Regions from separate parts of the Homo sapiens genome. Here region 2 is linked to region 1. The links come from fine-mapping of genetic effects on gene expression. A gene starts in region 1. The other region holds a variant in brackets. All regions are shown on one strand. Distances are between the middles of the regions.

Evidence for each region. PIP is the estimated chance that this variant, and not a neighbour inherited with it, causes the effect. A credible set is the group of variants that fine-mapping cannot tell apart.
Region 2: its variant is the best candidate, but not a certain one, in a credible set for the expression of TMEM260 in unexposed skin (GTEx, PIP 0.74).

The regions. Positions count from the first base shown.
Region 1 is chr14:56,573,296-56,589,882 of GRCh38, reverse strand. TMEM260 (transmembrane protein 260) reads right to left here and starts at 10,085. Exons shown (of 16, transcript NM_017799.4): 1 at 9,809-10,085; 2 at 4,851-4,882; 3 at 3,971-4,122. The coding sequence starts at 9,968. RefSeq lists a silencer at 9,798-10,017.
Region 2 is chr14:56,611,943-56,628,529 of GRCh38, reverse strand. It overlaps TMEM260 (transmembrane protein 260), which reads right to left. Exons shown (of 16, transcript NM_017799.4): 7 at 16,245-16,285; 8 at 12,503-12,586; 9 at 11,233-11,347; 10 at 9,767-9,936; 11 at 6,828-6,999; 12 at 3,000-3,148. Among named protein-coding and RNA genes, the nearest start is that of TMEM260, 40 kb to the right of the region's middle. The variant G/T (reference allele first, on the strand shown) is at 8,102.

The DNA of each region.
Region 1 (16,587 bases):
TAATTTTCTATTCTTTATTGAATGGAATCTTAGCTGAAGCTCTAAGAATAGCAGACACAGTGCTCAGAATCAAGTCTTCGCCTTCTAAAATTTAATCAAATTAATTTTTAGCAGCAACACGATGTTTAAAAATATATAAGTTATAAAATTACAAAATCCATGAGTTAAATACTGGCACAAAACAATCTGCCAGAAGATATTTAAGGATTACTGAAATTGATCGTACGTTCTTTGTAGTAAGCAAAGTTTCAATATACCTTTAATATTATTAATATTCCTATATTCTAGGTAATCTACTTGACGTTAAGAGAGCTGATGTCTTACTGCACAATATTAATGATGTTAGGAAGTATTTTTATGTGAGTTTCCTGAAACTACACCTTTTTGAAAAAATATTTGAAAAACTGCCTATTTAATAGTAACTTTGTATTACTTTCTTTAAAATAAGCACTGAATTTTGATTATAAAAAATAAGAGCTTTACTTTCAATTCACATGAGTCTTCAACAAATATTGTGGAATGAATTCTATAGTTCCATTTGGCCGGCAATAGTTTGAAAAGGATAGGCTGACTCTCAGGCCTGTTGAAAATACATCCCCTGCACTGTAACTACCAAAATAAATGACACGACATATACCCTCCTCTGATATCATAAGCAATGTAAATCTTCCCCGAGGTAAAGAATTTTTATACAATGCTATCAACATGCTCCCTTCTCTTTTAGTGATACCGGAACATATGAAGGATGAGAATATAGATGTTTAATGATAGTGACTTCAGTACTCCTTCTTTATTCAGTAAATAAGACCTAGTTTGACATTTCCTAGAAAATAATTTTGAAATTCAAGCATTAAATAATGTTAAATGGTGTTCATGTTAATGATTTATATTACCTATAACTTTAAAATTTTATATTAATAGGATTTGTGAATTTCAAATAGAATAGGGCATTTTAAATATTATGCTATTAAATCTAAAAATCATTTACTTTAATAGCCTTAAAAAAGAAAACCCCAGTTCCCAGAAACCACTAACTATATTACAGCCTTAGAAACACAGATGTACACATTAATAAAATGAATACTATTTCATATAAATGAAATGTACTAGATTAAACTCCCCTAACATAATGCATGCTTAAAAATACTCCTTAAGGGGACAATACATAAATACTTACAGAAACAACTGCCACAATCTTACTATTTTTAATTCAATAAACTACAGTGACACGGCTTTCAATGTGCTGTTTTACTCATATGCTTTCTACATTAGAGCAAAGCAAATATAAATGAGTTCTTGCCAACCATTAGGAAAGATTGACAAAAAAATGCAGTGTTAATGACATCTTACAGCTTTTAAAAGCAAGAGAAAGATGCAAGAAAAGCAAAAATTACATAGTAATTGGAAACAACGAATAAATTGGTCTTTCAATCTAAGTCATGTTTACTGAAAAAAATGGAGCTTTTTACATCAACACATTTAAACATAAATTTGCTTTTGAAATAAAATCTTTGTTTAAAAGGTACAGAAGGTCTTTATGTCCACCCCAAGAGCTAAATATAGTGAATGCTATGTGAACAATTACCTGAAAAAAACCTAAACCTGTTAAAAGAATTAATTTACTGCACACCAGTCAGCACTAATCCTACGTGTACAGTAATGGTCTCTTAAGTGATGGGGGAAAGAAAGAATAAAACTGTTTCCTGGATCAAAACCCTTCAATATTCAACAACAAAATGGAATGATGATTTGGTTTGTAAATGAATAAAGTAGTGAAACGTCTCCTAAACAAATTCTGATAAGGGAGTCAAGCTGCAAAGAAACACATTTATTGTACACTGGAACAGGAAAAAGCCATCACTGTAATGGTTGTACAAAAACTGTGTCCTGCTGTTGGGTTTATATTCACAGAAGAAAGGTTTTAAAGGTTAAGTTCAGGTCATACAACAAATGAAATTGTAACAAGCCAGCTGACATTGTATAATGTCTTCTTCCACTCAATCAATAGGCTACTGTTAGTCCTATTACCATAGAGATGGCTTCTCCTTTTTGAAGGGTGTCTATTGTTTGACAAAACAGATTTGCCACTTGAACTAGGTTATTCCCAAAGGACGTGTACCTTGTCAATTATTTGTATTCAAAATAATGAAGTATTTTCATATTAAAATTATGTAAGAGATAATATTGTTAGATCCCTTTTCTGAAAGAAAGCAACTTTTCCAAAGCACATACTATATTATTAAAACTACTCAAATACCTAATTTAGTCATATTAAGAGATTCAATTTAAAGCACATGTCAGCAAGTATAAAATATATCATTAGCCATGCATATTAAAAGAAAAGCGTTACAGGCTAGTGTGCTAATCTAAACCATTATAATTAATCATAATAATTAATAAAAGCTATTTTTAAAGAAAAGTACTGTCCAGAGCTATCCAGATTCTGTAAATTTTTAAGACTTTTATTTACGATTCTTACAGTAGTTCTCATATGGAATGGTATCAACAATTAATAATGTTGAAAAACATGGAAAAGTTTTAGAAAATGAATCCCTTTACTTGCACAAAGAGCTATTTATAGCTATATAACATTTAAATATATGTCTATGTTACATAAATGATCTAAAATACAGACTATCAAAATGAATATATTAGTCTTCTTTAAATGTTTTTGTTCTAAAGTATCTTGTGAAAATTAATAATATACTCATTCAATACAGAACAAGGAAGTTCCCATTCAACCTAGATATTTAAAAACAAAAAACACTTTTTCTCTCAGTGGAAATACTGACAGATTATTAATTACAAAAGACTCAGAAGGAACAATTCTAATAAAAATTATCCTAACCATTGAGAAAAAGAAAAATATTAATAGTACTAATGAATCTAAGCAGAAACATTATTTTAAATATTTCATAAAGACTAAAATAACAAATTTAATAATATAACAATTTGGGAAAAGATCAACAGTTACAATACTTGAATCTGAAAGTTTTTTCACATACAGATCAAAAGTAAACTTCAGAGTTATAATTATACTAACTCTTATCTTTCTATAAATAATTAAAAGAGAATTTAGAATTTGGCTAAAGGGCAGTATTATGACTTTGACACAAATAAAAATATTGGTCTCCAAAAAAGACATTTGAAATTGTACCTATTCAAATTATATTTACCTACAGAAATCATTTGTTTTATAGTAAGACATGCAAAAGTTTTTAGAAGAAGTGTTTTAATTTGGTTTTTCCTTTTGCAGAAAGTGTAATTTGTATTTTTCACTATAATCCTCTTAGGTATAGGATGCACTGAGTTAAGAATGAAGGAGACAGAACATCAAAGACAATGGGTTACCAGCATTCTAAACTAATGACCAATGTTTTAAAAGCAGGGTAGACTTCCAACCTAAGAAAGTCTTCTATCAATGAATTACTTGGGATCTAATTTGCCTACCTTTACTACAGCCATAACGGAGCAGAGTGAAACCTTACTAAAACCACATCCCAAATTGATTTCCTTAGTTAATATCCTTATTTCAGAAAGTATACAACATGTTCATATTTAGAATACAATATAATTAGGTATTAGCCCTGGACCTGATAGGCAGCTGCTCGTCAGCAATACTGTGAATAATTAAATGATATTTACCATTTACCAAAAGATGAACCTCATATTGTTGAATTAAACTGGCCCATCTGCATCTTCACAAAATGACAAACCTCATTAGTTCTGCCTAATCAGAGAACTGTGATAATGAACTGGTGACACCTTCACTCCACTGTAGGAAACAAAACCAACTGTGTAATCATTTGAGGGGTCAAATGCATATGAAAGTATTATAAATTAAGAAAGTGAAATCACATGTGTTAGGGAAACCAAGCAACAAAAGATTTTTTTAATGTATGTACTTGAGCCATAAGAAATCTACATCTCCAACTGCTCAAAATTAATTTTAACTAATCAACTACTTTACCTGAAAACGGTGAAAAAAAGTAATGATGCAGCTACTGCTCCAAATAAGCCACAGAGAAGATTGACGCGGTAGGCAATTGAACCAAAAGGAAACAGTGTAATTGCCAGTTTAGCCACCAGCGTGAACAAAGGATAGCCAGGAGGATGGGCAACCTACGGAAAAATTAGCAACAGTTAGAAGGTTTTCATCTAGGAAAGGAAGAGTCCCACAGGCCTTAATTGAAAAGTAGCCCTTTTCTCAAGCAGCTATAAAGATTAGGCACCAATGACTAAATGTTTGAATAGTGGTTTTCTATTGTAATCCTCTTGAGGCAATACAAATAAATATTTTCTTTAGTGGATTTGGCAGCGTCTATCACATGGTGCGTCACCCAGAGAAAGGGTGACATATTTCATTGTCAGTTCTTAAGCAGTTTGTTCTCTGGGTTCACAGTACATTAGGGTCATTTAAAAGGCTATTGAAAAAAAGCAGGTTCTGAAATATCGTATTGGTTAGAAAGTTGAAAGACCACACTGCTATCGGATTACCACCATGCTGACAGTCGTAAGGTCTTGCCTGAAGGGATCATGCACCATAATAAAGTTTATTAAATAATAAACTTATTAAAACTGTTAACCCGATTTATTTTATTCCCCACAGCTTATACAAAATTTGGGGTGATAATAAGGCAGCTACTGTATATATAGTAAAGGCTTTGCTTTATAATTTAGTTTAATTGGATTTAAAACTTAAAGTAAATTGTCACGTACTGTACTTATAAGTTACTAAAAACGGGGGTTTGAAAATAAATTAATCTACTTTACTCCATGCTTAATTAAACTTTCTTAATTCCTAAAACTGTTAATGAGAGCATTGATTAAACAATAAAACTAATACTTACTCCAAGCTCATGTGCGGCTGTGATCAGTTCCCCTGTGAAAAAATAATGTAAAACCAATAATTACTATTAGAGAATGACACTCCTCCAAAGTTTTCAAAATCCAAATGCTTGCATTGGGGTTTTGCATTAATTTGACTGGATAAAACTGTAAATCTGTAGAGATTTAACAGCATGAAATAGTCTAAGAATATTTTCTCCTTTAGGTCTTATTGAACAAACTATCTTTGATAGTCTTTAAGAAGTGGTCAGTGGAAATATAGGTACATTCTGGTCTTTAAAAAATGCTTATTTTCCCTCTTGAAAGTTGTATCCACTTGCAAATATACAAATACTGTTGGAGCATTAGTGTAATATGCTTTATTATCCCTCAAGAAATTAGCACGAAAGTCTATAAAGATACAACCTTATAGTAAGGTAAAATGCGCAGACATCTGAGGTTTGGACACTCCATAAAATGTCCCATACTACCCTAAAACTGGCATTTGGGTATCTTCTCCACATTAATTGCACTGGATATCTTTAAATGATTTCCAAGTGTTTATTAACTCCACGTTATTTCGGTAAGGTTCACTGTAAGACATTTTTTCAAACCATTAAATAATATTCTTTACATAGTCCTTTATAGTTCCTCACCATTAGTGACTATTTCTAAAATTATGATGCAGTAATTTGATGCCTATTTGTTAACCTTTTACGTATTCAGAGCACAGGGACTATTTCTGACTCATCCCTGTACATTGTAGTACCGTACAATGTAAGGAATCAATATTGATGAATGACTCATGAAAGTTACTAGTACCTATTAGGAAATGTACTACTGTCCACTTCCTATCCTTTCATAGATAGCAATACTCTGCATTTAATTTCTGTCCCAGCTACAATTTAGACCTTTACTCTCTCTGGCCTGGACTATGGCAACAGACTTGACCAATCCTACTTCAATTCATCTTCATACTGAAATCACTTATAATCAACACCTGCCTTCCCCCATGCCCCTAAACACATACACACACACACACACACACACACACACACACACACAAAAGGCTGGATTGCATCCCTAGTCTAAAATTTCTCAATGGCTGCTCTCTGCTTACTGAACGAAGTTCAGATTCCTCAGCATGACGTTCAAGCTTTCTATGGTTTCAAGGTCCCTTTTCTAGGCTTATATCCATGAAACCTATGTTCCCTCCAGTCAAATCTTATTACCCACTGTTTCTCTGGAGTGGTCCTCTTTTGCACCTCTTCTCACTCATTTTCTCACCCTGGAATATTTTCCCTAGCATTCTCCCCCTAAATCCTTCAAGGCCAAGTTCAATTGCCACCTTCTTGGTAACCTTTCCTTAGACACCTGCTTCCCCAGCCTCCCCATCAGAATTAATCACTTCTTCCTCCTCCATAGAACCTGCTTGAGTCTATTTAGCACTTTAGATGGCCTTATATTCTGGTTGGTTTTCATTTCTCTCTCCCACTAAGTTTAAAAACATTATCCTATCCATTTCACGATCGTGCCAGGATACCACCACCTCTCCCCTCTGGCCACACACAAAGCATCAATTCAAGCCATACACACAGAGGTTAACAAAAATACACATCACATTGTCATCCTTGCTACTAAGACACCCCAGTCTTAGGTGACTGCATCATGGAAGCCTTATAAGGGCACCTGAAGACAGATTAAGTCAATTACTTAAGGACATTTGTTAAGAGATATTCAAGAGCACCTGAGAAACCAGCACATTTTATATCCTAAATGCTTCTTTTTAAATAGTTTATGGTCTCACAATGTCTCAAACAACTGTTCCCTTTGTTAACTACTGTAAAGGATATGATTTTATAGTTTACTCCATAATGGATTAGCTCTTAAGTCTTTAGCTCCAAACTATTTTCGATTTTTTTGTTCCTGTAATCTTTTTGTAACGAAGCCACCATAAATTCAAAATTTCAAAGGTCACTATTCATTCTCCTCCATTTAAAATGTATTCAGAATTACATTTAACATTAAGAAAAATAGGCTGTTTTTCTCTAACTTCTTTTTACCATGGAAAAGTCAGTGTGCTGTTATTATTTGCCAGACTTCTGCTGCTATAAAGATAAATCTGGAATGTGACAAACTTTCATCAATTCTTATCAAATGTTAAACTAAAATCGAAATAGAAAAGATGTCCCCATTCAACGTCTCTAAATGTAACCTTGATAAAGATCTAAAGGGAAATACTACTCTTAAATTGATTGTGATAAAGAGGAAGGGAATAGTAAAAAAACCTCGAGCTTCCCGAGTCTTGGCTTTCTCCCAACCCTTTACATGAAAGGTTCCTCAGTTGTGTCTACCTGCATCAGAATTAACCTGCTTTTTAAAAATGAAGATTCCTTGCCCACACCTCCAAATTCCATAATCTACTAAGACCCACTTGCACTGGGGGCTCAAGTTTCCCAGGTAATTCTGAAGTACGTTCCTGTCTGAGAACCACGGCTTTGTTGTCTGCAATACAAACTAATGGCAAGCCCAGAGTTGTCAGCAGATGCTTAACCTTTACAAAAACCAGCTCCCTTTATATCATACTTCTCAATATTAATTAGACTAGACTGTCACACATCACATCTGTTAAAGACAGTATCTTTGAAATAAACTCACGTACAAACTAATTTAGTGAAGGCCAGATTCCTACCCCCTCCCCGAAAAGCACCACAAGCACCCTGCCCATAAATGAACTGTGTGTGTCAAGTGGTACAAAAAATAATTTTGGCAAGACGACACAATGTGATGAATCTATGGAGTAAAATGTAAGACTTATCAGGAAGAAGAATACATGCTTTATACTGGTTTTGAGATGTGTTCTGTTTATTGATGAAAATATAATTCATAAACATTCAAGAATAGTGCATTCAACATGTAAACACAATTATCAAATATACGATAAAGCAAATTTTCCATATTGGCATATACTTGGAAAACAGTTTATCATTCCCAAAAATGAACATAAAAATATTAGAAGCAACCACTATTTAACATCAAACCAAACAAAATTAAAGCACCTAAAGTTTGGTAACTCAAGGTGAATACACAACTTTATTCTTTTAGGAAAAAATAAAATACAGTATTAATAAAGGCAAGGCAATAATCATGATTTTAAATAAATTTTAAACATCACTACATATGTGATGGTGGATTTAGAAAAGAATTTCATGAAATGTTTTGACGAAAAGTAGAGGTTAAGGGGGCATATTCTGAAGTCAATATACTTTTCTTTTCCTGATTTCTCTACTTTGTGTGACTTTGGGCATAGCTTAGCCTTAGTTTTCCCATTTATAAAAGGAAAATAATAATTGCACCTACTTTTAAGGGTAGCTGGGAGGGTTAAAACAACAACCCATATAAAGCACTTGGAACAGTGCCTGGCACATAGTAAGTGCCCAACAAACGTCAGTTATTATAAATCTCACTCCCATCCTTCACACTCAACCAACCATAAGTAGCTGTCAATCTTTTTATTTTTTTACAAGTAACAGAACTACCTAACCTCTGAATAATGCTCTCCAGCACCAAAACTCACAACTATAAAGTTACTTCCATTATGAAATACCAATCTTGGTAACACTGTACAGAAACTCCCTACTACACGAATGAAACACTATCCCTACTTGTGCAACAGGACCTGAAAGAAGAAAGGTAACAATTTGAAGATGTAACATCAAAGATCTTCAACGTGGTAGGCAGCCCTAAATATGATCCCCACTAATCCCCAAGTCCTGATATTCTCACCTGTGTAATCCTTCCCCCTTGAATATGGGTTGGGTTTACTGACGAAGTTCCAGGAATAAAATGCAGAAGTGGTATATCACTTACAGTATTAGGTTACAAAATGACAGAGCTGTCAGACAGAGAGGTGTCCTTCATCTTTTTCTTGACAGAAGTCAGTTAACTTATGGAGACCCACATAGCAAAGAACTAGATTGCGTTTCTCCCCAAATTGAGCCTTGAGAAGACCGCAGCCCCATCGCACACCATGACAGCAACCTTTTTCTGAGTACGAGCATCTAGCTTAAACGGCACCCAGACTCCTGATTTACAAAAACGGGAGACGATAAACGTTTGCTGTTTAAGCTGCTCAATTTGGGGATCACTAGTCATGCAGCAAAAACTGCTTCTTCAGTCCATAGGTTCACCACCTGAAATTACAGCACTATTCTGACAAAATTACTGGCCATGATATGGCATTATTGAATCCAAAAACAAAACATGGATCTTGTTTCTTGCATCAAATACAAAACAATTAGTGTGATTTAAGGGCCAATGAGTCATGCTTTTCTTTTTCATAGAAACAGCCGCACCTGGCTTCCACCTTTTTAAGAGTTCTCCTGCAAATATTCTGCATGGCTAGTTCCTTCTCAATATTCAGGTTTCAACTAAAACACCACCTCTTCAGAGGTCTTTCCTGAATAGTCATTCGGAAGGACCCACTACTTACCCCCACTCTCAATCATATTTCCCTCCTACTGTCTCCATAACTTATCACCAGTGAATATGCTGTTTATTCATTAACTTGTGTATTGTCTAACCGCACTGGAACACTAGCAATTATCTGTTCGCCACTACTGTTCTTTTGTTTGAAACATAATAAGGACACCGTGAATAATATCTGTGGACTAAAAAAGACTGAAAGTAAATACTCAGGACCAGGATAAAAGATCTGGGGAAGTGGAGAGGTCGATAAGCCCCACCAGGCGAAACCAACAATACGCCCCATCTCGAAAACCTGAGAACTAAAGAAACCACAACGACAGGAATGGAAACAGAAGTGGGCTCTGGAACACACAATAGTGCGCTGTGCACAGGGGGGTGGATGGAGGCCCAGAGCTGACCAGACCGAATGCCAAGAGCAGGGGCCAGACGCAGACCCTGCCCGTTCTGGGACCAGGGGAGAGGGACAGAAGGGGCAACCCTGCGAGTACTTTACCGGAGTCTCCCCCCGGTACCGAAGGGGGCAGGGTGAAGGTGAACACTGCGGCCACGGCGGCGAACACCGCCACGCCGCCGCGGATGCCCCCGGAGCGCCGCAGCCCCACTCGGACTGCCCGCCCCTGGGCCTGGCCCCTGCCGTCGCCATGGGGACTCATGGGCCAGTGGCGACCGAGGGAGAAGGACACGGCCAGCCCAAGAACCCGGTGCGACACGGAGCTCCCCAGCCGAGAGACGAGCGCAGCTTGTGCGGCGGCCACGGCGGCTTCCGGGTCGAGCCTCCGCGGGTTGGACCGCACCTTTCTCCGCCTGAGCGCGGGGAGGAGAAAATGCCAGGCCTCCCTTGAGCCAGGCCCTGCGAGTTTTCCCGCAGTGCACCACGCATTGGCGTTCACCTACTTATAATGTGATTTAAGGTTCCTAATCACCAGGAGAGCATTCCCTTTAAAAAGCAAGCCCGGCCACAGGCCTACCTTCTCCATGGCTATTCCCCCCTTTTATACTGACTTGGTTGGGTCTGACAGAGACCAAAGCAGCGTCGAAAACCGCGAGCGAGGAAGGGCTGCTCCTGCCCCCTACGGTGCGGGGTGGAACTGCACAAAAGGGCCACGATCAGCCAGGAGCCCCTACCTGTGCTAAAAAAAAAAAAAGGGTGGTGTATTTACCGTATGTGCAAAGTAAGCCAATAAATACATTAATCACAATTATGTATTTATTACGATTTACTACGTTACTATGACTAATTACAATAAGTCTGTGTGCTACTTATTAAATCACTGAGTAATTTTTAGAGAGATTAGAATATGCTAGTGCGTCTTTTTTTTTTTTTTTCATTCCATAGCATAATGAAAACTCTGTAGATGAGTCGGGAAATTTGAGTTCCTGTATTCATGCAGATAACTCAAACCATGATAAAGGTGTCTCCTAGTTTAATGAAGAGGAGTGTTTTGCTGGAGCTTTCAACACAGCAAAGTGGAAAATGAAATTGAATCACCATATTTTACAATGAGCTGTAACGCAAAAAAAAAGAATCGGAGCCGTTAATAAGGACAACTACATAACAGCGCAGTTAAGCTTTTTAAGCTTATGTTTTATTATTAAAGCAATTATCCTGGAGTGGGCGGGGAGGAGAGCAACCCGCATAAAATGTATCTCAAAGACACACTGAAAACCAGTGACAATCTCAAACGTGTTACGCGCAATTTGATAGAGACACAGTGACTAAACTATAGAGTAACATATACCTACCTTGACGGTCATGGGGCCAGCACACCTTAGTCTTTTCCAGGTACTTATACAATTTCCAGCCTTTTCCAGGTAATTTCTCAGCTGTACTGTGAGTTCCTGGAGGAGAGGGGCTGTGTGGTAGAGTGCTTCTAAAATGGATTCCCAGATAACCCTGCCTCCTCACTCACTTCCTGTATAAGCTGCTCGCCTTATGTGTGAGCTTAACCTAAGGATTGGCTTCTATCAATACAATAAGGCAAAAGTGATGGATGTCACTTTCAAGATTAGGTTATGAAAGACTAACTTTCATCTTGCTGGCACTCCCTCTTGTCCTCTCACTTGTTCTCTCTGATGAAGCCACCTACCATGGTGTAGGCTGCCCTGTGGAAAGGTCCACATGGGAAGAAACTGAGAGCCGCCTCTAGCCAACAGCTGGCAAGAAACTGAGACCTTCAGTCCAACAACCTTAGAGGAACTGAATCTAGGCAACACCATGTGAGGGAGCTAGGAAGTGGATCCTTCCCCCACATAAGCCTTGAGATAACTATAACTCCTGTCAAGACTTGGATTGCAGCCTGTGGATGACCCTGAAGCAGAGGACCTAACTAAGCCTCATCCAGACTGCTGTCCTATAGAAACCGCGAGATAATAAATGTTGTTTTAAGTTGATAAATGCAGGCTAATTTGTTAGTTATCAGCAATAGATAGTTAAGATAGGCTGTCTTCTATTTCTTTGCTGAAAGAACATGCCAATGAGTAACCTTGACTGGGTCAAGCATATACTTCTTTCCCTTTTTATGCATTTCACTTTTGCTCATGAGTTTTATTTAAAATTTTTTTATTTTGGAGGGGAATAATTCTTTGTCCATGTTTGGGAGGTAGAGATCAGTGCTGGAAGTACAAATTTAGGAGTTGCTCGTGTAAGGATGATATAAATGACTAACTTGATAAGGGGATAGTGTAGAGAGAACAAGGTTGAGGTCTAATGTCAGCCCATATTCTCATTTAGGGAATGGCTGGAGAAGGGGAGAGAACAGTGTAAGAGAATGAGGCATCACCAGAAGCTAAAGAAGAAAAGTCGATGAAGTACATGTGGTCAGGATGTTACAGAGAGGTAAAGGACAATGAAGAGAGGCACGTCTAGATTTTGTGAAGCTCAAGTGTATAAAACTTGGAGAATTATATGTAAGTAAACTGATATAAAACTGCAGATACAGAATTAGGCACAAGATATTGGAAGACACCTGGGCTAGAGAGGAACTGTGAGGCCTAAGCTTCATTAGCTTCATGGTTGTTTTCCTTTGAAGATTAAGAACTTCCAGTTCTCTGTTTATGTCTGACTCTACCTCTCAGTAAGCATCTGACTATTCCTTCCTCCCCGGAAGTATTTTCTTTTCTGGCCTTCATTGATAGCACACTCTTTGGTTTTCCTTTTATCAATGGCCTCCCTGCCCTGGCTCTGCTTCTGTCGGTCCCCCAAATGCTGAAGTATTCCTGGGCTGTTCTAGACTTTTCTCTCTTTCTGTCTTCTTTCCCGAGATGATCATATTGAAGCTTTAAAGGGCAACTATGGGGCAATATTTCTCAAAATTAGACCTCCTCTGCTTCTCTTTTTTAGCGACCGATTATTTTAAAAAACCCAACTGCCCCCGACCTCTCCATTTCTATGTCTAAATAGCCTGTCAAACCTGATGGACTTTGTCTAATTTCCACCATATTTAAAATGATGCCTGGCACAAAATTGGTGCTAAACAAATATTTATGTAATAAATGAATACATGAACAATCAGAGATCACTGGCATATCCGTTAGGGATTGCATTTAGCTACTAGTGACAGATCCTGCTACAGTGTCTTAAACATTAAAACAATCATTCTCTTATATAAAAGAAGTCAGAAGTCTATAGGAAGTCAGTCTACCACTGGCTTGGCAACTCCCTGATTCCACTAGGGACACAGCTGAAGTCCTCATATCTTTCTGCACCATCCCACTCAGCTCACATTCTCAAGGTCATCTACTGATCCAAGGTGGCTGCTAATGCTCCAGACATTACATCTGTTCTTGAGGAAGAAAAAGAAAGGATGGGAAGAGAAAGGCCTGCTCCAGCTTTTTTAAAAAAGCACTATTTTTTTAAATGCTATTCCACAATTTTGCTATATCTAATTGGCCAAAATTGAATAACAGGTCACTCCTAGGGGCAAAGGATGCTGCGAAATAGACTTTTCAGCTGGACAGTTTGCCTAGAATTCTATTACAAAGGAAGAAGGGGAGAATGGATACTGAGGGGCAACTAGCAGGCTCTGCATGGTTGGATTTGGTGACCTGGAGGTATTTGAACCTTGAAAGTTCAAGAGGTCAGCTTCAGTAGAGTAGTATCTACAGAAACAAGGTACTAGTGGGCTAAGAAGTGAGCAAATGGAAGACATGAAAATAAAATACATTTGCAAAAAGTTTGGCAGTGAAGGGAAAGAGAGAAATAGCATGAAAATTCACAGGGATCGAAGTGTCAAATGAAGATTTTTGAATGTCTTGTTTTGTTTGTAACTCAAGGGAGTATTTGGAGAGACATAGTGATGAAGTAAAGATGTACAGGTTATTGGAGAGGATGGGACTGAGGAGGACAGAAGAGAAGGGTTGAAGATAGAAAATGTTAGAGATAAAGAGAGAGACCTCATGATGTCTCTCTTTACACATGATGTGTAAACATGTGATCGTTGGACTTGATCCTGAGACAGACCAATAAGACATATAACGAGTATTGATTTATTGTTTGTGCTCTACATCATTCTATGATGGCTTAGAGTTAGCCACTATAATACAAACCATAAAGCAGAAAAATATGTAAATAATTTGGGATTCATCCAGAGAAACAGAACTAGTAGGAGATATGTATGATACAATTTATTGCAAGGAATTGTATAATGTAATTTTGAGGGCTGGCTAAGTAACTCTGAAGCCCGTAGCACATGCCATCAGGAAGGGAAGACTGGAACTCCTGGGCATGGCAGAAAGCTGTTGTCCACAGCTGGAAGTTTTTCTTCATCAGGGGACCCATATCCCTGCTCTTAAGGCCTTTCCACTGATTGAATCAGGCCTACCAGATTAACTATGATAATCTCACGGTTTTGAAGACAAATGAGGCTGGGCATGGTGGCTCATGGCTGTAAACTCAGCACTTTGGGAGGCTAAGGTGGGAGAATCACTTGAGGCCAGGAGTTCGAGACCAGCCTGGCCAACATGGCAAAACCCCATCAATACTAAAAATACAAAAAAAAAAAAAAAAAAAAAAAAAGCCAGGTGTGGTGGTGTTTACCTGTAATTCCCGCTACCCAAAAGGCTGAGGCACGAGAATCGCTTGAAACTGGGAGGCAGAGGCTGCAGTAAGCCAAGATCATGCCACTGCACTCCAGCCTGGGTGACAGAGCAAGACTCTGCTTGGAGAAAAAAAAAAAGTCAACTAATTATGAACTTTAGTCATATCTACAAAATACCATCACAGCAACACCAAGATTCGTGTTTGATTGAAAAACTGAGGAATGTAGCCAAGCCAAGTTGACACATTCGAAGAACATCACAGAGGCCAGGGAACACTCAATTAGATATAGAACATCAGATTGACGGAAAGTAAATACATAGATCCATGGCCCTATGGTACCCTAAATTTGGCTCTGGGAGTCTTCCTGGGATTTATGGCCAGCATCTAGCTTCTGTTGAAACCAAGGAGATGGCTCCTCATTATTGCTGAGCAGAGGTGGACATTCCACCTACCTGCCGGGCCTCTACTGCTGCCTCCCTGCTGCAAGGTAAAGGAGTCCTCGTCACTATTCCACTTGTGGTTTCCACTAGCACCACATGGTTATGGGGGTATGGAGATGGCCTCCTTTTCCTTGGACAGTGGTGAAAGTCCTGACTCTCACTAGGCTGCCTCTGATACTACCCCAGAAGGGAGGGAAAGGGGGACCTCATTCTTTTTGGGCAGGGGTGGAAGTCAAAGATCCCCACGTGGTCTCCACTGCCACCATGGAGAAGAGGGGTCTCATTACCACCCAACCAGAATGAAAGTTCTGGCTTCTTCCTTTGCCTTCTTTGACATGACCCTGGTGGCATGTGGAGGCACCTGGAGAGGGTAGAAGTCTAGGCTGCCCACTCAGCCTTCCTCATGGTTTATTCTTTGGTTTTGGCTACAGTAGAGTGATTGTTTTCTAAATGTATCTGTCTTGCCCCTTTCTTGGTCTTTTAGCTAGAGGGACGAGGCTTTTTGTTGGGGCTTTTTTTTTTTTTTTTTTTGTCTGGGCCCATTGGCATCTCTGGGTTGCTAGCTTCTTTAGCAACCAATCTGTGATATAAGGGGGAAAAAGAAGTCCAGGGACCTCACCACTCTGTTGTTCTTCAGATTTCAGAGCTCCTGCCTCAACTGCCTTTTTTTCTTCACATTTTGAAGTCTTATTATCTTTGTTTTATATATAATGTCCAGTGTGTTTAGTTGTACTTAGCAAGAAGAATTCAAAAAAAATACCTATTTCATCTTTCTGAAAGCAAAAGTCACTCCTCTTTGTTTTATTCTGAGCATTCAGAGTAGCTTCACAGACATTAATGCACTGAAATTCACCTACAAATTACAATTTAGATGTCTAATTCCCCCAAATCCCACTTGATATAAAGTCAATGTCTTAATATTTCTAATATCAGTGAAATTTAAGGTTAGCAACTTTAGACTAGAAATTGGATGCCTAGAATACCATCCGGTAATCCATCTACAATAGGAAAATGCAAGAGATACAAATATCCCTGACAAATGCCTCAGAATAGTAATTTTAAACATATAAATGTATTAGTAACCAAAGGAATTTGAAATAAAAATAAACAAATGCCATTTCCACCTTTCCAATTGTCAAAGGTATTTAATAGATATGGGGGATTGGTGATAAGGGAATTTGGTATAATATTTTGGAGGTCAATGTATCTATGTGTATCAAAAATTTATAAAGATATTCATATAATTTGACCTAGAATTAATTGTAAGTAAATATTCATATACATCTTTAACTTTACTAGTAATCAGAGAAATACAAATGAAAACCACAATGAGATACTACACACCTACTAGGTTTGCAAAAATTGAAGTCTAACTATATATGATGTTGGCAAGTGTTTGGAGCAATAGAAATGTTACCAGGAGTATAACCACTTGGAAATCACTTCCAACCACTTGGAAAACAGGCATTTCTAGTAGAGTCAAAGGTGTTTAGAGTCTGCCACTCAGTAATTCCACTCCAGGTTTACACCCAGAGAAGCCAGGAGACACGTACAACATGTCCATAGCAGTGTTGTTCATAATAGCCCCCATACAGGAACAGCCTCAAACATCTATCAGTGGCAGAATAGAGAAATAAATCCTCTCATATTCATACAATAAATAGTATACAACAAAGAGAATGAACAAACTATAGCTAGCTACCATGGAACAATCTGGGTGATTCTCACAAACAAAATATTGGGCAAAAGGAACAAGTTATGATAGAACACATGTGGAATGATTGTAGTTATTTA
Region 2 (16,587 bases), 39 kb before region 1:
ACAAAACTATAGAACTCATAGAAGAAAACATGAGAAAATCTTTGTGATCTGGCATTAGGCAAAGAGTTCTTAGATATGATACCAAAAATATAATTCATAGAAAAAAATTGAATTTGAGCTTCAAAGAAATAAAGTTTTGCTCTGCAAAAGACACTTGTAAAAGACAAGCAACTGCGAGAAAATATTTACAAACTGCATATTTGACAGAGGTTGCGTACCTAGAATATAAACAGAACTTTCAAAACTCAACAATAAGAAAACAACTCAATCCCAACCCTATGCAGAAAACATACTCACACACAAACCTGTTTATGAATGTTTATAGCAGCTCTATTTATAAATGCCCCAAACTTGAAACAACCCAACTGTCCTTCAATGAGTAAATGGATAAACAAACTACAGTACATCCATACAATGAAATATTACTTAGAAACAAAAAGAATAAACTATTGATATACACAGCAACTAGGATGGTTCTCAAAGGCACTACACTAAGTGAAATATGCCAATATCAACAGGTTACATACTTTGATTCTATTTATATGACACTCAGGAAAAGGTAAAGCTATAATAATGAAGAACAGATCAGTGGTTGCCAGGGTTAGGCCTGAGGAGACAGTGTGACTATACGGGAGCAGCACAAGAAAATTTATGGAATCATGGACTGCTCTGTGTCCTGACTGTTGTGGTGGTTACACAAATGTATACACGGGTTAAAATTCATAGAACTGTATACCACACCCCCTAACAAGAAAAGTAAATATTACTGCATGTTAAAATAACAGGTGCTCACTAAACATTAGCTAGCTTCCTTTCAGAGGTATGCATTTAGATAACTTTCATATGATGATGGTCCATCCCTTTGGGGGGGAAAAATATCTCTATCACATGCCTTTAAATAATGCATGTCCTTTGAGTTAGTAATTTTACTTCTGAGAATCTATACTAATAATTTAAAATTCTGCCCCTCCACAAAAAACCCTACATATACAAAAGCAGTTGTTGTAGGTATAATTTTATTATAGTTAAAATTAGATCATGTTAAATATCTCCTAATAGTTTTATTTGCTTATTATTTTTAAATTACAGTACATGTATTTACAAAGTTTGTAAAAACATAAGGAAATTGTTTTATGATAGTAAATATAAAAAACAGGACACTTATGCTTTCACCTTTGTAAAAAATATGCATTTTTTATATATGTGTTGTTTCTGAGTGAATAGGACCCTGTTTTCTTCCAGTTTTTAAAAACATTTCTCATTCTGTAACAAGCACATGAAACTTTTAAATTTAAAAACTATTTTAAAAACTGATATTAAATAAGTCATATTTATGCAGTGATCTTTGTTAGTCAAAAACATTAACAAAACTTTATGGGGCAGAATGTTTATCATAATTGTATATTATAAGAGCAAAAGTCTAGAAACAGAATATCCCAAAAATAGAATATTCGTTAAATTATTATGCGTCTTATGAGAATATTAGCCAACAATGACAATAATATACATGGGGAAATGCTTATGATATAATGGTAGGTTAAAAAAATTGGACAGAAAATGATATCTCAGCTATATATAATACAGTATGTATGAATATGTGTATGTTTTAAAAATAAGTCATTTATGTTAAAGGTGAGTGGAATCCAACAATATTTATCAAAATATTAACAGCAGCTGTCCTTGGGAGACAGATGATACTGATCGTCTTCACACTTTTCCGTGTTGTTTAGAGTTTCCTCAAAGAGCATACGATACTTCCATCATATTGTTCTTGGAACATTTTGGACATGCAATTTTTATTAAATAAATGCTGAATGAATGTCCCCAAACAGAATTAATGGCTTCCTTATCCATGCTGCCAGAATACTTGGCATATGTTGTCAGTTAAATCATCTATCTATTCAGTAAACACCTATTGAGTATATACTATGTCTGACACTTTACAAGGCATTGATAGTATAGAACTTATCCCACCAAATTATGGCTAGTTGTATTCACATCTATGTATGTATACAACTAGATTGTGTTCTATTTGGATTTGGAACTGAGTCCCATTCATCTTTCTACTGCTGGAGCCTAATACAAGCTGTAACATAGTAGACATTCAGTAAATGCTTGTGGGATTGAATTCTCGAAAATTCACAAAAATGCCAACTTGGGGATGTTAATGGTTCCTAATATTTTATCTAGAATAGAATAATTAAATGTTACTCTCACAGCGCATTTATAACCATTACTGTCGTTTACTCCACGAGCCATATAAACTTCAGGCTCTAAACACCCAAAATACCACATTATTATGTTCTTAGCAAGGGATAATTTAACTTTGGGATTTACAAAGACATTCTGAAGTCTTCTTTATAAGAAAAAATAAATCATGAAATAAGTGTTTCTTCTTCAAGCTCTGGACAATCTCAAGCACTTCATGGCAGAAGAAATGTTCAACACTGTGCCATCGGAGGAATTATTTATTCTTGACCTAACTACAAATAATTTTATGTTCTCAAGTATAGAATTCACAATTCTCATATTTTATCTCAGCTAGCATAAACTGTAGGTGTTTTTCTTATTTATAAAAATGTCTTATCCTTTATAAAAATTCTTAAGCTATTTTTATATAGTGATTATTCCTGAAAACATTTGCTTTACACTTAAAAGGGGGGCCATAGTGTTGATCAGGGGAACTATAATTGCTTGCCATCCACCTGCAATGATTTCAAGTAGGCAGGCACATCTCCAATTTCTGTGAATTGTACTAAGATCTTATTTGCTGTTCTTGCTAATCTGTCTGTATTTTTCCTTTATCCAAAACAATAACATTTATTTCTGCCTGGCCTCATTTATGCACAGATATTCAATTTAATTACAAAGATAATCTCACCAGTGACAGGGAAATAGGCAGAGAAAATTGGTCTTTTGGATGATGCACAACTGCTACAGAAACAATTTTAGAAAAGCTTAAGATTTTAGAAAAGCTATTATATAAAAAGAATGCTTACTGTTTATTTACTTCAAGAAAATGATAAAGATTAAATGTGACCATTCCACTAGGTAATATTCCTTCCACAGGATTCCACCGGTTCCCAGGAAAGTTGACACCTGGCAAGTGCTTTGCCATCTTGGGTAAATACCACTCGTAAGTCATCATCTGCCAGAAAAGTCACACATAATGTCAGACTTTTAATATATTTCTTAGAAAGAATCAAGTTTATCAAGTAATGGCAAAAACCTAAATTACTTTTGCACCAACCTAATATATATATAATTGAAAAATATAAGCACAACTGAGAATGTGGTACTGATTACTTTTTTAGTGATGTAAACTTTGGATTTTATTATGACTATCATCAGTCACATCAGTACCTTCTTCCAATTTACCTCCCGCATTTGACTCCCCAGAAGGACCTTCCCCCATTCTTATACCTAGAGCAGGGGTCCCCATACTGGGCCGCACAGCAGGGGCCAGCATTACTGCTGTGCTCTGCCTCCTGTCAGATCAGTGGCAGCATTAGATTTTCACAGGAGTGTGAACCTATTGTGAACTGCACATGTGAGAGATCTAAGCTGCATGCTCCTTAAGAGAATCTAATGCCTGATGATCTCAGGTGGAACAGTTTCATCCCGAGACCATTCCCCACCCCCACCCCCAACCCCCAGTCTGTGGAAATACTGTCCTTCACAAAACCGGTCCCTGGTGTAAAAAAGGTTGGGGACCACTGACCTAGAGAACGTGTATTCAACTTTCAGAACCACTGTAAATATCACTTCCTCTGATGCCCTCCTCTGTCTCCATAGCCAGAATGGCATGATCCTCTAGTACTTTGTACTCACCTCTATGAGAGCCTGTTCCTCACCAGACTGTGAGCTCCTAGAAAAAAGGCACTGTATTTTTTCATCTCTGTGTATCTGCACCTAGCACACTGCCTGGCATAGAACGGTTCTCAAATTTATTATTATTATTTTGAGACAGTCTCACTCTGTCACCCAGGCTGGAGTACAGTGGCATGATCTCAGCCCACTGCAAGCTCCGCCATCTGGGTTCATTCTCCTACCTAAGCCTCCCAAGTAGCTGAGATTGCAGGCACATGACACTACACCAGAATAATTTTTGTATTTTTGATAGACACGGGGTTTCACCATGTTGGCCAGGCTGGTGTCGAACTCCTGGCCTCAAGTGCTCCACCCGCCTTGGCCTCCCAAAGTTCTGGGATTACAGACGTGAGCCACCACACCTGGCCAGTTCTCAAATCATGTTTGCTGAAATTGAAATGCCTTTGATGGCCAGACTAGACAACCTAGACAAAATAGCCATTATTTTATTCATTAAAAAAATCAAGTATGCTCATCTATAATGAATAAGATATAATCCCTGCCCTGGAGAAGCTCAATCATGTAATAATCTAGGCCTCAAAGTTAAAAACTCTTTTGGCATTTCAAATTATCTGAATTTATTAGTAGCCCTATATTAATTACATATCCTTACAAGTTTACACATTCTTTTGATTTAAATAATTTACTTATATTAGAAAAAATCATTTTACTTAATTCTATACTTAACACATACTTAACTCTATACTTTGATATGTATTCATTCCCTCTTTTTAAAGAAGAGACTCCCATTAACACCACCAAAGCTTTGTTATGTTCGGATATCATCATTTGAGAAATTGTGCTTATGTTTTACTTGTCTTATGTAAGACATTACCCAGCAAATGACAAATTAATTTTAATCTAAGTCTAAACTGTAAATACTCAAAAAATACTTACTGAATTAGGCTTTATTACCCAATAGTTCTGGTTCTGGAGGATATTAATATTAATTACATACCCACTGTGTGCTATGGACTTTACTGTTCCTCATTTGGTTCTCAAAATAACCTTGCTATGTGAGAATAACTGTATCAGACACTGTTGATTGCCCACTCAACAGTGAATACCTTCTTCTTTTTCACTAATGCAATCTTCATTTTGATCAGGTAGCTCAGGCTGCAATGTTCTCAGTCTAGTCATTCTCCTTTGCTAATAAGCAGTTTAGGTGTGAGTATATGACTCAGTATTGGTCAGTGGGGCCTGAGTGGAGGTCTGCTGGGGGGCTTCTGGGGCACATGTTATTTCCAATAAATAGAGAGAGGGAGATACCCCAGAAGAAGCACTGTGCTTTGTTTTAGGTTGTGATGTTTGGAACTGGGCATGCATCCTGTGACTGGGAGGGAAAAGTCAAGAGAATGGCAGAAAAACTGCCTCAGAAACTGACGTCCCTGAACTGCTCATATTATCAATCCTAACATCACCTATCTCCAGACTGCGTCTCATGTGAGGCTAAAAACTCAGTCATTTAAGTCAGGTATTCTGTTTCTTGCATTCAAATGCACCCTAACTTACATAATGATGACTTACATTTCATAAATAAGGGAACAGAAGCTCTGAGAGGAAAAATCATTAGCCCCATGTCACATATCCAGGAAGTGACAGAATGAGGACTTGAGTTTAGGTCTAATTCACTTTCTAATCCATGCTTCTCAACTACAGGAGCTGACATTCTAAACAGTGTTTAAAATCATAGTGTGGAACCATGTTATTAACAAATAACATAGCTTTTGTCAGAATCTAGACTGAAGTTCAAATTAATCAATCGGCATCCATGATATAAATGCAACTGCTTATAAAAATGTAAAATTGTATATTTACAAATCTGTTTATAAAGTTTTCTCCAAAAATTATAATTATTCATTAATTCAACAAAGTGCATTAAGTACTATGCCTAATAATTTGTTCAATTGAATTCATCATATTATTCTTTTAAGATTAAGAATTTCTCTTTTCCTAATGACTGCTCTAAAAACACCAGAGACAGGTTTCTTCCCTTTTATGTATCTATGGCTTAAATAATAAATCTTAGTTTAAATAGTTCTTCAATGAAAAAAAAAGTTTTCATAGCCCTCAAAATTTTCACAAGTCCTCTCTTAATGTATTTTTGTCACAGCATTAAGAAAGTTTATATAAAAATTCTATAGCATAATTATGGTTAATAATTTCTATTTTGAGTGAAATGTTTACTTACCTACAGTATGATTTATTTCATATTCAATATAATTTATTTTAATCCCTGGACCAATGGGCAAGGTAAATTTGAATGGTTGAGTTAGCTGAATATAAAATAACAATTTTTTTTTTTTTTTTTTTTTTTGAGACGGAGTCTCGCCCTGTTGCCCAGGCTGGAGTGCAGTGACACGATCTCGGCTCACTGCAAACTCTGTCTCCCAGGTTCACACCATTCTCCTGCCTCAGCCTCCCGAGTAGCTGGGACTACAGGCGCGTGCCACCACACCCGGCTAATTTTTTGTATTTTTAGTAGAGACGGGGTTTCACCATGTTAGCCAGGATGGTCTCGATCTCCTGACCTCGTGATCCGCCAGCCTCAGCCTCCCAAAGTGCTGGGATTACAGGCGTGAGCCACTGCGCCCGGCCTGAATGTAAAATAACAATTTAAAAATAGATTTACCATACAACAAACACTTTTATGGTTTGTCACATGAACTAGAGACCTAAAACATTATGAATCTAACATGAAACACATTAATTCTTAAAACGTTCAGTTTAAATGTTTTTAAATGAGAAAGAAGCAACTAGTGTGACTTACACTATTAGTTAAAATAAAAAAAAGTATGCCCATATATATTCTACCTAACATGTAGAATGTCATATATATTCTACCTAACAGTGATCATGAAAACTGTACCCGTCCACCATTTTAAAAAAGATGTTTTTTCCAAAACATATGTTTTTAAATCATCGCTATATTCTAAGTATATTTTTCATATACTTACTTCCTGATCCACTAATGAAATGTCAGGCCTCAACCCCTCACAGTAATGCATGTAACGGAGAGAATTTCCTGGCAAATCTCCTCTGAGTAAGATAATTGCATCATGAGGCATAGAGGTGAGAAGGTTCTTTGCGAACTTATCAATCACATAGTTGGTCCTTTGGTCACAAACACTAAATAAAAGGATCCAAAAAAATTAAAATAGCAACACTTTGCTACAGTTTTAATAAGACTAGGCTTATTTTCTATGCCATTCTTTTCCCATCATACAATCAACATTTAGTGTTTCAATACATTCTAAAATAATATGTATATTTGAAGAGAGAATACTATCACCTGATAAGCAGCAGCTAATTGTGCAATTGAAAAAAAATCAGTCTACTGCTTACTTCTGGAGTTTATAATCATTTCCAGAAAAAGGGAATCAGTACACAAGAATAGGTCCTTTTTTCCCCCTAAGTGCAATCCAATTTTATTTTTAGAAAGTAAGATTTCTGATTCCACTTGGAGTTTAAGGCAATTTTATGTTCATTCCATTTACTCAAAGGAACTTTCAGAAATGCAAAAGGAAATCTGCCCATTTCTGACTTGAATTTGTATGGCATTTGTATGATTTTCTTGCATGCAGAGGTTGATCCTTTCCACTTCTCCCCTGAATCACAGGCCTCCTGTGTCCCTCTCTGCCTTTGGAGATCAAGAAATTGCTAGGGAATGAGACCAATGAGAAGCAAGGGGAGGACGAGTTTCCTGAGTTGTTTACTTCTCTCCAGGCATTATTTGCTATTGCCAATAACTTCATTCTTTTCAAGAATGAAGTTAACTTTCTAACTTCAAAGAAAAACTGGCATGAATTCTGACAGCATTCTATGAAAAAAGAAAAAGATGACAAAACAGTAATTAGTATCAAAAAATGAGACAAGCAATGTCCTTTCTGTTATTACCAAGTCCATTACATTTGATGGAGCTGAGAATATCTGGGGTATCACAAAACAAATGAACACCTCTAGGAACAGAATATTATCCCTGCCTTTGTAATTGATGTAAAAATTACTGTTTCCTACCTGATTCCCTATGTTGCAGAGTGATGAGGCACATTTTGCCACCTAGCAAAAGTGCTATGTATTCCATTCCCCTGGGACAAATAAAAAAAATCAAAACAAGATAAAAACACCTAGCCTGTGCAAATATGTCTGGTGTCGAACCTGGACTGCCCTAATGGCCTGAGCCAGGAGATGACTGGGATAAGAAAAGGTTGGGAAACACACTGTGGGCTTG[G/T]TGCACCTTCTTGAGCTAGCGATGATGTTGTGTCCAGGACACGCAGCCCCTTCTCTCAAGGCCTCCTGGTGGCCTTCCTAACACCAGCTCTACCCCAGTATTATAAAGAACAATGTTGTGGGTTTTTTTAACTTTTATTTTATGTTCAGGGTACACGTGTGGGTTTGTTGTTATAAAGGTAAATTCACGTCACAGGGTTTGTTGCACAGATTATTTCGTCACCCAGGTATTAAGCCTGGCACACAATAGTTATTTTTTTCTGATCCTCTCCCTCCTCCCAGCCTCCACTCTCAAGTAGGCCCCAGTGTCTGTTGTTCTCCCTCACTGTATCCATGAGTTCTCATCGTTTAGCTCCCACTTATAAGTGAGAAGATGCAGTATTAGGTTTTCTGTTCCTCTGTTAATTTGCTAAGAATAATGGCCACCAGTTCCATCCATGTTCCTAAAAAGGACATGATCTCATTCTTTTTATGGCTGCCTAGTGTTCCATGGTGTATATGGACCACATTTTCTTTTTCCAATCTGCCACTGATGGGCATTTAGGTTGATTCCATGTCTTTGTTATTGTGAATAGCGCTGTAATAAACATTCGCATGCATGTGTCTTTATGTTAGAATGATTTATATTCCTTTAGGTATATACCCAGTAATAAGATTGCAGGGTTGAATGGTAAGAACATTGGTTTTTAAAGTTAAGTTAAAAGAGAAAATGTAATCCTTTAAAATAATACCAGTCCAATCTCACTATAGCAAAATTCCAAGGGACTCTCTTCCATTTCCATAATGTGTACTTGATATTGCTGGAAATAAACGAACTATAGTCTAAGACTTAGACGTCTTTTATGTCAGACTGAGATTTTTATTGTAATGGTTATTAAACAGATTTTTTGAAAAATACATGTAATACTAATAATATATGAGTTAAGAAACTTTAGAACTTAATTTAAAAATAATTAAGGCTGGTATAGTGGTTCACACCTGTTAATTCCAGCACTTTGGGAGGCTGAAGAGGGAGGCTTGCTTGAGACCAGGAGTTCAGGACCAGCCTAGGCAACATAGTGAGACCTTGTCTCTACAAAAAAAAAAGAAAAAAGGCATGCTAATGGTGGCATGTGTCCATAGTCCTAGCTACTGAGGAGGCTGAGGCAGAGGACTGCTTGAGCCCAGAATTTCACGGCTGTAGTAAGCTACGATCATGCCACTGTACTCCAGCCTAGGGGACAGAATAAGACCTTGTCTCAAAAAAATTAGTATTTACTACTACAGAGTAAACTGGACATAAAGGGAAGCATAAAGTGAATTATTTTAGGGTATACAAAAAACTCTAAATCATTTTACTCTCCATCTAAGTGGTATTTTAGGTCATGGAATTTTACCTATACTAGGGATTCTAAAAGTATCTCTTGGGTTCTTAAGAGAAAAAGATACAAATTGTCTACACGCACCACCTAAACCCTTGTTTGCAATGGCCTGAAACCATTCATCGCCCATGCTTTAACTTTTAGGTTTAACGACCCTAAAAGTTAAAGAACTACTGCATTCAACCAAGCTGTCTCACTTTGAGTCTTGAAAACCAGAAGTTAACAATGAAATAAAGTGTTAGAATCTAAATATTCAGGTATCTCTGGCTTGACAGCTACTTTTCATAAAAATAACCATGTATTACCTGTAATTAGAATATATTTGGTAAACTACAAAAAGAGTTGCAGAAAGCCATTCCAGACACTGAAGCCCATTGCTATTCAGCACTCGGTTAGTCTCAGACACAACTGCAGCCAAACCAATGCCAGCGAGGACGGCCACTACTGCATTGCTCTGCATCCAGAATCGTTCCACCTGTGAAAGAGACATGCAACCAGTGGGTCCAGTTGACTATTTAATGCTATCAATCAGCTCCTCATATATTTTTTAAATATGCTGCATGCACCTAGTTGTGTGTGCCTGTTGTCATTCAGGTTTTGTTAACTGATTTCCCCAATCCAAGCCCAGGTCATTTTATTTTTCTATTTTCAAACATTCTTCCTTCCCAGTTTGACAGGTGCATCTCCCTTTTCAGATCCACACATTCATTTCAATACTGTGGCCTTAGTCTTGAACTCCAGTAATATACAGGCTGAAGGAGTTAGAGAAATGCTTTTGCTTTACTCCTGATGTTTCCTTCCACATGGAGAAGCTCCACTGTCCTGGCCTGTCTCTGACCCCTCACGTATTTCCTCCTATAGGATGTAGGGACTGATCTGACTGGGGAGTTTGGGAGCTGGGACTGGGCCTGCAGCGCCCTCCCTTTTCATCTCACTTTCTCCTGGAAGTGAGCTACCCACAGGAAGCACTTGTCCAGGGCTAGAGTCTATCTCTGTGGCACCAGTGGGGTGGGGGAGACAGGGAAGAGGCCTGACCTGCACAGCACTGCCTATGACTAGTGGGTAAATCTGTCTATTCTGGGATGCTGGAAGAGGAAGCCCCCTTGGCTACAGATATAAGCTGCATTTTCCAATCTCAGTATTATCAGTAATAAAAGTGATTCTCCCACCCGTTGTACTGTATTACCTTGTTTCTCAATTGATTCAGAACTCAGGTGATCAAGTAGGGTATTATTTATTAGGCTTCCTGAACACACACATACGCAGACTTTGTTTCAGCTGTCAAAAAAGTGCTATTGACATTTACAGAGAATCTATTGTAAGTAGAAGAAATACTCTAATCTCAGAGACTGCTGCCAAAGAAAACAGAAATACGGTTGCTCTTTTGCCTAGGCCTGGGACTGGGGAGGTAAGAAATAAGGAAATATGTTGTTAAGTGCCCTCAATTACAATTCATATTTCTTTTGCTGTTAAAAAAATTCCAGGAGAAATGCAGTTGTACCTATATTTGCAAGCACACACACATACAATGACTTAAATCTACTTTACATTTACTTTTCTATTTAACAACTGTGTTAAACACTGCATTCTTTTTATCCTAAAAAGAGGCCTTAGCTGTATTGACTCAATAATTCAACTTTGATTTATAAAAATGTATATAAAATTTTAACTATTCCTCAAGTAATTTGCCCTTCTACAAGATTTATGAAATGCAAATTTGCACATTCTTCACAAACTTTCTGGTCAAAGGATATATCTAAGTAAAACTTACCACACCCATGAAAAGTGGTTTTGAAATATCTAAATTTGCTCTCCAAGCAAAGAACAATGAATAAATGCAAAACATTCCAGTAAAAAGCCATACTAATGATGGATTCTGTCTGTCCCTACAAAAAATAATAAAAATATGTCTAAAATATTTAGATACATGAATGTCAAATATAATATCACAGGACTTTAAACTATTAGATCTATAAAAACTTTCCATTTTTAACTAGGAGCAAAGAGAGATTTCGGTTTTTAAAATCTGAGTTGAAACAAATAACCAAAATATAATAATAAATTTGAACTACAACTTGGGACTACGCAGTAAAGGATATAAAGCTAACATTCACAGAAGAAATGCAAACTACTGATTTTGTTAAATTTCAGAAGTGATCAAATACAGGCAAAATAGAAACATTTTCATGCTTGAAATAATAAAGATTTAAGAACGATAACTCTCAATGTTGGTGTGCAGTGGTATGACAATATATGTTAGTATAATCCTTCAGAAAATTTAATTTGATAATATCTATATCGGAAGCCTTAAAAATATTAATAATCATTGACTCAGTTATTTATCATGCAGGCATAAATCTTTAAGCAATAACCAGAAATGTAAATAAAGATTAATCCATAAAAATGCTTTGTTATTACTTATAATAGTGGAAAAAGTGGAAGCAATCTAAAGACCTCTCAATAGAAGAACAGTTAAATTAATTCTCCTGTGGTCATAGAATGTTCTATTATATAGACATTTAAATGATTTTAAGTATTTTTATAGTATGAGAAAATGTTCACAATGTTTGTGTCAAGTAAACAAAACTATAGATAAATGTACAAATATACATTTACATACAAATGCATTCAACAGACTAGATCATAAATGAATAAATTAATGGAGATTTACAGTGCTACATTTTTCAGGGTTTCTTTTGTCATCGGATCACTTTTATCATCAGAGGAATTTAAATTATTGCTTCTTTTTAAAATCAGCAATAATAATCGGTTATAGCAGAGTTAAGGGATCAAACCTGAAGTTTAGGACATCAAATGACTGTCTACTTAGATGTAATATAATGCTCAATTTCTTGAAATCATTGATTTATTTAGAATCAGAATAGAAGAAAGCAATACACGTTTATCTTAATAGACAGCTAGGAGAGTCATTTATTTGGAGTATAAAATAATACTGGCAATGTCCTACAGCGACATACTGAAAACATTAATTCAATTCATGAACATAGAAAAATAACAGAAAAAGGAATTGTATTACTTACTTTGTTGCTAAACATATATTTGCACAAACTGCAAGGGCTTGGATGTTGAATGAGAGTTCGGTCCTCATATTTGTTACTTGAGAACTGCAAAAAACAATCTAACTTATTGTTGGCAGGAAACAAATTTGATTGATTCCAAATAAAATAGTCCTTGTAAGATACCATTGATTATATACTGAACAATCACAAGGGCTGGGGTCAGATTTTAAAATTTTGTCTTTTAAAGTTGGAAGAAAAAGTGCAATAGAAAGACTTAAATAGTTCCAAGACGTTTTCCAATGGTAACATTTGGTTATCAACTTATATAATTTGGAATAGGATCAGAACAAATAATTCTTCTGTATTTTTTATATTGGTATACTGTATAGAATATCCCCGACTGGTTTGGTAGGAAGCTGTTTGAAATGAGTTTTTGAACTTTTTTCTCTTGGCAGTGTAGACATGGCCTCCAGTGATTTAGCAAATGATAACAAAATTAATTCAAATAGATTTCTGGAGATCTAATATGAAGAAAATAAAGGCCATGAGAGATAATTCCCAGCCATTCTTTTGTGGGTTATTTTTTTCCTTAATTGGTTTCCTTGTTTTCTATATTATTTGTTTTGGTTCAAAAAACATTTAAGCAATCTCAGAGAAATGTATTATGTTTTTTTCCTACAAATAAACTAAATTCTTCCATTAACTCATATGCATTTTCAGGTGTTAAAATTTGAGTTCTAAAATAGCTTCTGCTCTAGCTGTCTCCAATTGTTAAAAAAGAAATGACTCTATACATCATCTCAAAGAACTTTCTTCTCCCTACCGGCAATTTTACTGGAGAAAATGTGATACCATAATTATAGAAACCATACAATGTGTATTTTACTAATGAAGACTCATCTACTATGAGAAGATATCCTTACTCATTTTCAAATACACTTGAAAAAATTGATTCCAGCATGAGGCCCATTTCAAACCATTCTTCAAAAGGAATGAAGTCAGTCTCAAAATTATTCTTGGAGATCTATTGCTTAAGTGTAAGCGCTAAAAGATGGTCACTGCCTAAGGTTAGATTCAATAATTTCCTTGTACAGGATTGCAATTTAGAGATATGCATGGGGAAAAAATTTAATTTGCTTGACTGGAAAAGGGTAGATGATTAGCTTCTATCATTTTGAAGGATTTTCTCATAAGTTAATTATGAGTTGCCTTTTTCAATGTTCCTGCCCACCTGAAACTATTAAAGACTAGACATTCTCATTCAGGGAGTGCTAAGATTATGCCTTCATTCTACATGATGACTTGGTCCACACAGAACACAGAAGTGTGGGTGTGAGTGGTCATCACTTTTGTCAAGTCTTTTTTCTGGGTATACAGCCTGCTATTATTTTAATGTAAAGGAGGCCTTTAAGGGTCCCAATAGATGACTTTTATGTGCAACTAATAAAAGTTAGACATATGGTCTAGGATTACTCTCAAGAGTTCTTTGGAGTTCATGTAGGGTTTGCTAAGACAAAATATACCAGTTATCCTTAATGCTGTAACAATCTCTGGAAGGTAGATAGAAAAGAGCAGGCAGTGAGTCCTTCTGCATGGAGCAAAGCAGAATAAAATGAAAGCTCAGAGACATTGATATGACATTTGACTGTCTTTATCTTTATTTTTTTATTTTTTGAGACAGAGTCTCACTCTGTTGCCTAGGCTGGAGTGGCATGAAGGTGGCTCACTGCAGCCTCGACCTCCTGGGCTCAAGCGATCCTCTCACCTCAGCCTCCTGAGTAGCTGCAACTACAGGTGCATGCCACCATGCCTTTTTTTTTTTTTTTTTTAATGTTTTGTAGGCCGGTTGTGTTAGCTCACTCTGGTAATCCCAGCACTTTGGGAGGCCGAGGCAGGTGGATCACCTGAGGTCAAGAGTTTGAGACCAGCCTGGCCAACATGGTGAGACCCTGTCTCTACTAAAAATACAAAAATCAGCTGGGCGTGGTAGCACACACCTGTAATCCCAGCTACTCAGGAGGCTGAGGTGGAAGGATCACTTGAACCCGGGAGGCGGAGGCGGAGGTTGCAGTGAGCAGAGATCTCACCACTGCACTCCAGCCTGGGTGACAGGGCAAGACGCCATCTCAAAAAAAAAATTTTTTTTTTTTTTTGCAGAGACGGGTCTCACTATGTTGCCCAGGCTGGTCTCAAACTCCTGGGCTCAAGCGATCCTCCCACTTTGGCTTCCCAAAGTGCTGGGATTACAGGCATTAGCCACCGCACTCAGTGCCATTTTTATTTTTGAAAAGAAAACTGAGCTTCTTGTTACATTCCCCCAGCGAAAATGAGAAAGCCACAAAAGTCTCACACATAAAAAGAAATATTTACAATCAATGGTGAGAACCATCAAAAGGTTACGTGAAAGTAACTGATGGCAAGGAGGTATTTCCAAGATATAATGTAAAGTGAAAAACAGCAGGCTAATAAAACAGTATGTTTACTATGATCCTACTTTTAAAAAGAAATAAAAATCTTAAAAATATTAGAAAAATATAGTCATTAACAGATTAATAACAGTGGTTATCTCTGCATGTTGGATTTATAGGTAGTTTTAATTTTCTTATTTTTGCTTACCTGTATTTTCTAAGTTTTCTATAAAGCTTATGTACCTTTTTTGAAGTAGAAAAAAGAAGTTGTTTAAAAAGAAAGCAAGGAAGGATGGCTGGAAGAAAGCAAGCTATTAAGTAAATTACACCGAAACTGTGAGAACTCATAAACTGCCTCACATATAAAGTTGAAATATTCTCCTCATAGTTTTTTTTCAAACAGCCCCAAGAGTTCCAAATTAGTAATTAGTTAGGACATCACTTTAGTGTTGTAGAAACCTATTTTCTTCCAAAATTTTGTATCAAGTTGGTATGGATATCTTTCCACTTGTCTTAATCTGTAGGTTTTAAAGCAAATATTAACCCAGTTTTCAAAGAACACTATTAAATAATATACATGAAAATATATTTGCTTAAGCCAGCTCTAATAAGGTTGGATGTTAAAAATATGTAAGCCAAAGATAGAGCTTACGGCAAGGATAGCCTAAAGAAGTCATAGGAGACATTACATAAATTAAACTCTGAAATACTAAAATCCAAAATAACAAGAAAATAGTTGTTCAATTGAAGGTTGAAACATTTTAGTTCTATAAATGCTCTATATAGTATTCTAATATTCACCGTTGTGTTTATTGCTCATTTTAAGCTCTATCTTAGTGAAGGAGGTGCTAAAAATATTTGACAGTACAGTCGGCCCTCTGTATCCATGGGTTCTGCCTCCATGGATTCAATTAACCTTAAATCAAAAAAAAAAAAAAAAAGTTGGGGAAAAAACTGTCTGTACAAACATATACAGATGTTTTTTCTTGTCATAATTCCCTAGACAATACAGCATAACAACTATTTACATAGCATTTACATTATACTAGGTATAAATTATCTAGAGATGATTAAAAGTATACAAGAGGATGTAAATAGGTTATATACAAATATTATGCCATTTTATATCAGGACTTGAGCACCCATGGATTTTTATATCCTTAGGAGTTCCTGTAACCAATACCCCATGGATACTGAGGGACAACTGTAAACACAAACAACTGTTAACTGTAGAGGTAACAACTACTTCTCAGACATACTTTGTTACAAAGAGATGAACTCAGAAATCCCTAAAATCACTTAAAGGAACTAATAGAGAATTCATTTTAAAGTAGTTTCAAATATTTCATACTCACAGCAGTATTTCAGACATACTGGATCCTATTTCAGATTTGGCCTAAACACAAAAGACAAAAGTTTATCTGCACAAGCATTAAACTGACGCTTTATTAGGCTATTGTATTTTAATAATCTTAAAAGATTCGGGTTTTCTTAAAACAATTTTTTAATTTTAGGTTTCGGGGTACCTCTACAGGTTTGTTACACAGGTAAACTGCGTGTCAAGGGAGTTTGGTGTACAGACTATTTCATCACCCAGGTAATAAGCATAGTACCCAATAGGTAGTTTTTTTAATCCATTCCCTCCTCCTACCCTCTGCCCTTAAGTACATATGTGTCCATGTGTACTCAATGTTTAGC